2 linked regions of the Homo sapiens genome follow. The protein of the gene in region 2 purifies or fractionates together with the protein of the main gene of each other region. This does not show direct contact. Each region holds a gene or a part of one and is shown on either strand. Other genes may lie near its edges. The genes, in order: NOL10 and DDX52.

What was found.
Region 1: the proteins of DDX52 (region 2) and NOL10 fractionate together in Homo sapiens (co-fractionation; one large-scale study listed by BioGRID). This does not show direct contact.

The regions. Positions count from the first base shown.
Region 1 is NC_000002.12:10,570,254-10,572,614, reverse strand, and holds the end of NOL10 (nucleolar protein 10), read left to right. Parts: intron 1-424; coding exon 425-544; 3' UTR 545-1,861; downstream 1,862-2,361.
Region 2 is NC_000017.11:37,608,923-37,612,654, forward strand, and holds the end of DDX52 (probable ATP-dependent RNA helicase DDX52), read right to left. Parts: 3' UTR 817-3,732; downstream 1-816. Other genes in the region: SYNRG (synergin gamma), read right to left, coding at 357-433.

The sequences.
Region 1 (2,361 bases), on a different chromosome or scaffold from region 2:
CTAGTTTGTAAACAAAGATCTCTAAAAGGAAGTGGACACTCTAAGTGATATCATCTTCTTAAGGTGGCTCTTGTGTAGGCTCTTTTAAAACATCCCAGTGGTTGTGTGAGTGTGTTGGTTGAAAAACCAGTCTCCTACTTTGTAGGAGGCTGGTCTGTCAGGGCCCTTCTCTTGCCTGGGGTTCAGAATTTCTGCTTTTGCATTGATGGTAAAAGTTGGCCTTGGTCCTGCTGTTTCTGCCAGGGTAGCATTTGTCAGAGCAGAGTCCAGGCAGCCCCACCATGTCCCCTGGAGCCTGTGGGCAGCATTTCTCCTGGCAGCAGTTCTGAGATTGGTGGTGGTACTGTTGGCAGCCTGACGGTTACCAGAAAAGAGGTATAGAATTTTCTCTCTTTCCCTCTACTCATTTCATTTTCTCTTTTAGTCTGAACAGCAGAAGAAGCAACAGGAGGCTGAGAAACTGCATCGACAAGAAAGGAAAAGACTCCGTCGTTCGGCCGGACACCTGAAGTCAAGACACAAAAGAGGACGGTCGTTTCATTGATTTGGGAAGTGGTCCTACCTGTGATTAGGGAGGGGTACGTCTCCCCCAAACTGATCATCGTTAGGGTGTTAAACACAGACGAGGAAACACACGTTTTTAAAGTTCATGTACGTTCTTGTACACAGAGGTAAAGATTTGAAAACCTGTGCCTTGTGGGTTGGACTTTGAAGCTGGCCCCGCCGACGGCCACCGCACAGCCCCAGGGGTGTGCTTGCGAGTCGTTGCTCCCTGGAAACATTGTCCTTTCCCCACGGCGTTAATCATGAAAACCAGGCTGGGGTTTTTTTAATATTGTGAAATGTACACCATGAAATGAAAGGTTTATCCTGTGCCAGAAACCAAGGTTTATCATGCTCTAGGAACTTTTTTCTTACACTGCCTACCGCCATTCATGATTAAACCATCCAGAAATACCATCCCTGTTTTACCTGGTGTCTGTGTATTGCCTGTGTTTGTGTTTATAAGTTTATGCTGATAGGTTTGTTCGGCTTGTTTATGTATTAGTTTGGGATTTGTTTTTAAATAATTTATACCAAGAGAGTATAATCTAATGGTGCAGGTTGAGAGCATCCCAAATCCGAAAATCTAAAACTGTTTGAGCACTGTATTTATCTGTTCTTGCACTGCTATAAAGAACTACCTGAAACTGGGTAATTTATAAGTAAAGAAAAGAGGTTTAATTGACTCACAGTTCTACAGGTGGTACAGGAAGCATGGCTGTGGAGGCCCTGGGAAGCTTACAATCGTGGCAGAAGGTGAAGCGGAAGCAGGTATGTCCTGCGTGGCTAGAGCCAGAGGAGGAGGGCAAAGGGGCAGATGCTGCACACTTTCAAACACCAGATCTCCAAGAACTCACTAACACAGAATAGCAAGGGGGAAGTCTGCCCCCATGTTTCAGTCACCTCCCTCCAGGCCCCTCCTCCAACACCGAAGATTACAATTTGACATGAGATTTGTGTGGGGACACAGAGCAAAACCATATCAAGCACTGACATGACATTGGAGGAAAATGCTCATTAGAGCTTTTCAGGTTTTGGATTTTCAGATTTGGGATACTTGACTAGTAAATATAATACAGATATTCCAAAACACACAAAAAAACCAAAGTCTAAAAGACTTCTGGTCCCAAGCATTTCAGATAAGGGATACCCAACCTGTAATAATGGGAAACAAGCAGTAGAGGCTGTTGGTTAATCTTGGCACAAGTTTAATTACAGGTTTTTTTTTTTTCCTGTTTCTTAAGTACAGTCAAACATAAACTTACTGGAGGAAACATTTATAAAAATAAATATACTTTCATTTGAATAGCTTCTTTGAGAAAGACTCCAAGAAAATTTTTTTTTCATTAGTCAAACGGTGGTGTGCACTTGTAGTCCCAGCTACTGAGGCTGAGGTGGGTTGCTTGAGCCTGAGAAGTCGAGGCCAGCCTGGACGACAGAGCAAGACCTGCGTCTCAAAAAAAGAAAGAAGAGAACCAACTTTGGTTTCCTTAGTTTTTCCAGCTTTGATGTGATTTTGGAGGTGCCTTTATAGATTTTTAAGGTTCTTTATATACAACTGAAATAGTAACTCTTTGGACTGTGAATGATACAGCCTAATTTCGAATAGCATAAGCCGAGAGGCAGAATGCATTAATTTACATCACCATGCTTGGGACATGGAACTGGCCTCAGGAACACCTAGATCCATGGCTCCACGGTCAGTCAGCTAGCACATGCGCACTCTATCTCTGTTTCCCTCTTTCTCTCTCTCTCCTTCCCCTACTCCCTCCCTTCCTCCTCCTGTCTCACCATTGTTCCTTCTCTCTTCAGGCCTCC
Region 2 (3,732 bases):
AGACCCTGGTCGCTTCAGAGGCAGCTAGGACTAGGAGCGGAGTCGCGGTTCCTGATTTGCCCCGCCCCCCCCCACCCCAAGAGGACCCTCATCTTCTCTCCCCTCCCACACTGGGCGCGCGCTCGCTCCCCGCTCGATTCCAGGCGGCCGGCGCCCCCAACTGATCCCGGAACACCAGCGTCCAGCACCTGGGCTCCACACGCCCCTTTCGGCCTGGGTCCCTGGGGGATGACCCTCCTCCCGCAGCCCAGTTCCAAGGAAAAGGATCAGGGCTGGAGAAAACTGCCATAACTGCCAAGCGCCCCTCGCCGCCCCCGCGGAGGCCAGCGGGCTCCCGCCCGGCTCTTCACACCTACCCGCCTCCCCCGGCGGACCCCGCGCCAGCTCCCGCGGCCCCGCCGCCACCAGAACCAGCTCCTGGCCGCAGCGCCATCTTGCTCCCGACCTGCCGCTGCCTTCGCCGCCGCCACCTTATCAGCAGCTGTCAGCTGAACACAGCCACTTCCGGGTCAAACACCAGGCCCCACCTCGCCGCGGACCGGGCGATGGGGCGGGGCCTCGCGCCCACGTGACTCCCCCGGCCCTCGGGGAGGCGTGGCGCGCCCACGGCACGTGACCCGGCGCCGCAGGGGTCCCCCAGATTCAATTCTAGCTCTCGGGCTGGTGGGGCGGTCGCGGGCGCCTCTCCAAGGGAGCTGATTCATTGTCTGGTAGGCCCTCTGCAGGGCCCAGCTGGCGGCCCAGTGGCAAAGCGCCGTTGGTCCTCCGTTTGAAAACCATGATCGCGGTTAGTGGAAAGAGTAGGCTGAGTCCTGATTTTTAAACTATACGGTGGGTACACTGGTGTTCTTTTATTGTTACTCTTTACACACAAAGAACAGATAGGTCCTGAAGGGCCCTTTGATAGTCTCGCAGCACTGATGAGTGATCAGCTCTCCCCTCTTTCTCTGGAACTCGGTAGCTTCATGTTGGCACCTATCACAGACGCTGAAGGCATTTAAATTTTATTTTAAATCAACCAAGAGCCCAAAAACCCAACCCATATTTCGAAAAAACTCCAAGGTGTACTACTCTTGTTTGGTTCTGCCATCCTGCCACCTTACAGTCCTTTTGTTTTTCCTATTCTTGCAGGCAAGTGCAAAACAGTGGTTTTTGGAAGGCAATTCATAATTACTCTGAAGCTATTTCGGCATATTTTTTACTGATTTTTTTTTTTTTTGAGACAGGGTCTTGCTCTGTTGTCCAGGCTGGAGTGCAGTGGCATGATCATGGCTCACAGCAGCCTCAGCCTCCCTGGCTCAAGCGATCCTCTCGCCTCAGCCTCCTGAGTAGCTGGGACCACAGGCATGCACCACCACACCGGGCCAATTTTTTTTTTTTTTTTTTTTTTTTTTTTTGTAGAGATAGGATCTATGTTGCCCAGGCTAGTTTCAAACTGCTAGGCTCAAGCTATGCTCCCACCTCGGCCTCCAAGTGCCAGGGTGTGAGCCACATGCCTGGGCTGTGATTTTTTTTTTTCTTTTAATCAAACTACTGTCTGGAAGTAAAACATGAAAGTTGAGTAATTTTCTCAAGCACGTAGTTTGCTTGCTAACAAGTAATGGATTAATTAGCTTTACGTTTTCACTCTTGTCTCAAGGTTTTTACTGGGTAATAATTTGTAATAAGTTATTAGGCACAAACCACTGGTCAGGAACTGTACACGCATTTTAAAAAATCCTCAGTATCCTTAGGAGTTACAATTGGCATCTTACAGATGAGAAAATCAAGGTTAGAAACAGTTACTGTCATTTGTCCAGATCATACAGCTACAAGCAATGAGGATCAGGATTCAAATCCAGGCCAGTTTGACTCTAAAGTCCTTGCTCATTTCACCAGAGCCAGCTATTCAATTTTTATGTTTTTTCTTTTGCTGTAACTGCCTGTTCACTAATTTCACTCCTTCCCTTCCTTGTGTGAAGCTGAAATTTATGTAGCACATAGTTCCAACTGCTTTGAAGGAGCTAAATTTAGTATTAATACACTGACTAAGTTGATACAGGTTACTGTAGATACTTTAAACAGACACAATAAAGTCAAGGATCATAGATGTGACCTCAGTTTGTCCTGGAATCCTTTTTGTTCCTCTTCTTTGCCTATTGGTTTTTACATTTGCAGGATTCAACTCAGGATGTCGGCCTTCCATGACATCCCCAATCTGGGTTAGATGCCCTCTTGTGATGCTTTAGCATCATGGCCTTACATCTAACAGAGCACTTGCCACACTAGTCATGTGCTACATGATGATGTTTTGGTCAGCCACAGACAGCAGATACAATGGTGGGATGAGAAGTGGGGGTGGAAGACAGTGAGACTGATGATCCTGACCTTTTGTATGCCTAGCATAATGTGTGTGTTTGTGCCATGGTTTTTAACAAAAAAGTTTTAGAAGTAAATAGTAAAACAAAACAAACAAACAAAAATTAATAGAAAAAAAGCTTCTAGAATAAGGATATAAAGAAATAAAGTATTTTTCTACAGCTGTACATTTGCATTTTAGGCTAAGTGTTATGACAAGAATCAAAAAAGTTTATAAAGGCCGGATATAGTGGCTCACTCCAGGTCAGGAGTTTGAGACCAGCCTGGCCAACATGGTGAAACCCTGTCACTAAAAATACAAAAATTAGCTGGGTGTGGTGGCGCATGCCTGTAGTCCCAGCAACTCGGGAGGCTGAGGCAGGAGAATCACTTGAACCCAGGAGTCAGAGGTTGCAGTGAGCCGAGATCATGCCACTGCACTCCAGCCTGGGCAACAGAGCAAGACTCCATCTCCAAAAAAAAAAAAAAAAAAAAATCTAAAAAACCCAACTGGACAACAAGCAAGACCTCGTCTCTACAAAATTTAAAAATTAGCTGAGTGTTGGTGGCCCGCACCTATAGTACCAGCTACTCGGGAGGCTGAGGTTTGAGGATCACTTGAGTCTAAGAGGTCAAGGCTGCAGTGGGCCATGATTGTGCCACTAAACTCCAAATTAGGTAACAGACCCTGTTTCTCAAAAAAAAAAAAAAAAACAAAACAAAAAAACTCATAAAGTAAAAGTTACAGTAAGCTAAGGTTAATTTATTGAAGAAAAAATATATATCTAATATATATAATACATAATATATATAATGTGTGTGTGTGTGTTTATTTTCAAGACAGTCTTGCCCTGTCGCCCAGGCTGGAGTGCAGTAGCGCGATCTCGGCTTACTGCAACCTCCGCCTCACAGGTTCAAGCTATTCTCCTGCCTCAGACTCCTGAGTAGCCGGGACTATGCCACCACACCCGGCTAACTTTTTTTGGTATTTTTTTTAGTAGAGATGGGGTTTTGCCATGTTGCCCGGGCTGGTCTCTAAACTCCTGAGCTCAGACAACCTGCCCGCCTAGGCCTCCCGAAGTGTTAGGATTACAGGCATGAGCCACTACGCCTGGCCAAGAAAAATATTTTCAATAAATTTAGTATAGGTTAAGTGTGCAGTGTTTATACAAGTCTACATGTTCCAACTGTCTATAGCATGCAGGACAGTAACATGCTATACGGGTTTGTAGCCTAGGAGCAACAGACTATACCATATAGCCTAGGTGTACTGGTAGGCTATACCATCTAGGTTTGTGGAAGTAAACAACATGATGTTTACACAATGACAATATCACCTAACGATGCATTTCTCAGAACATATCTCTGTCATTAAGTGATGCGTGACTCTATTTG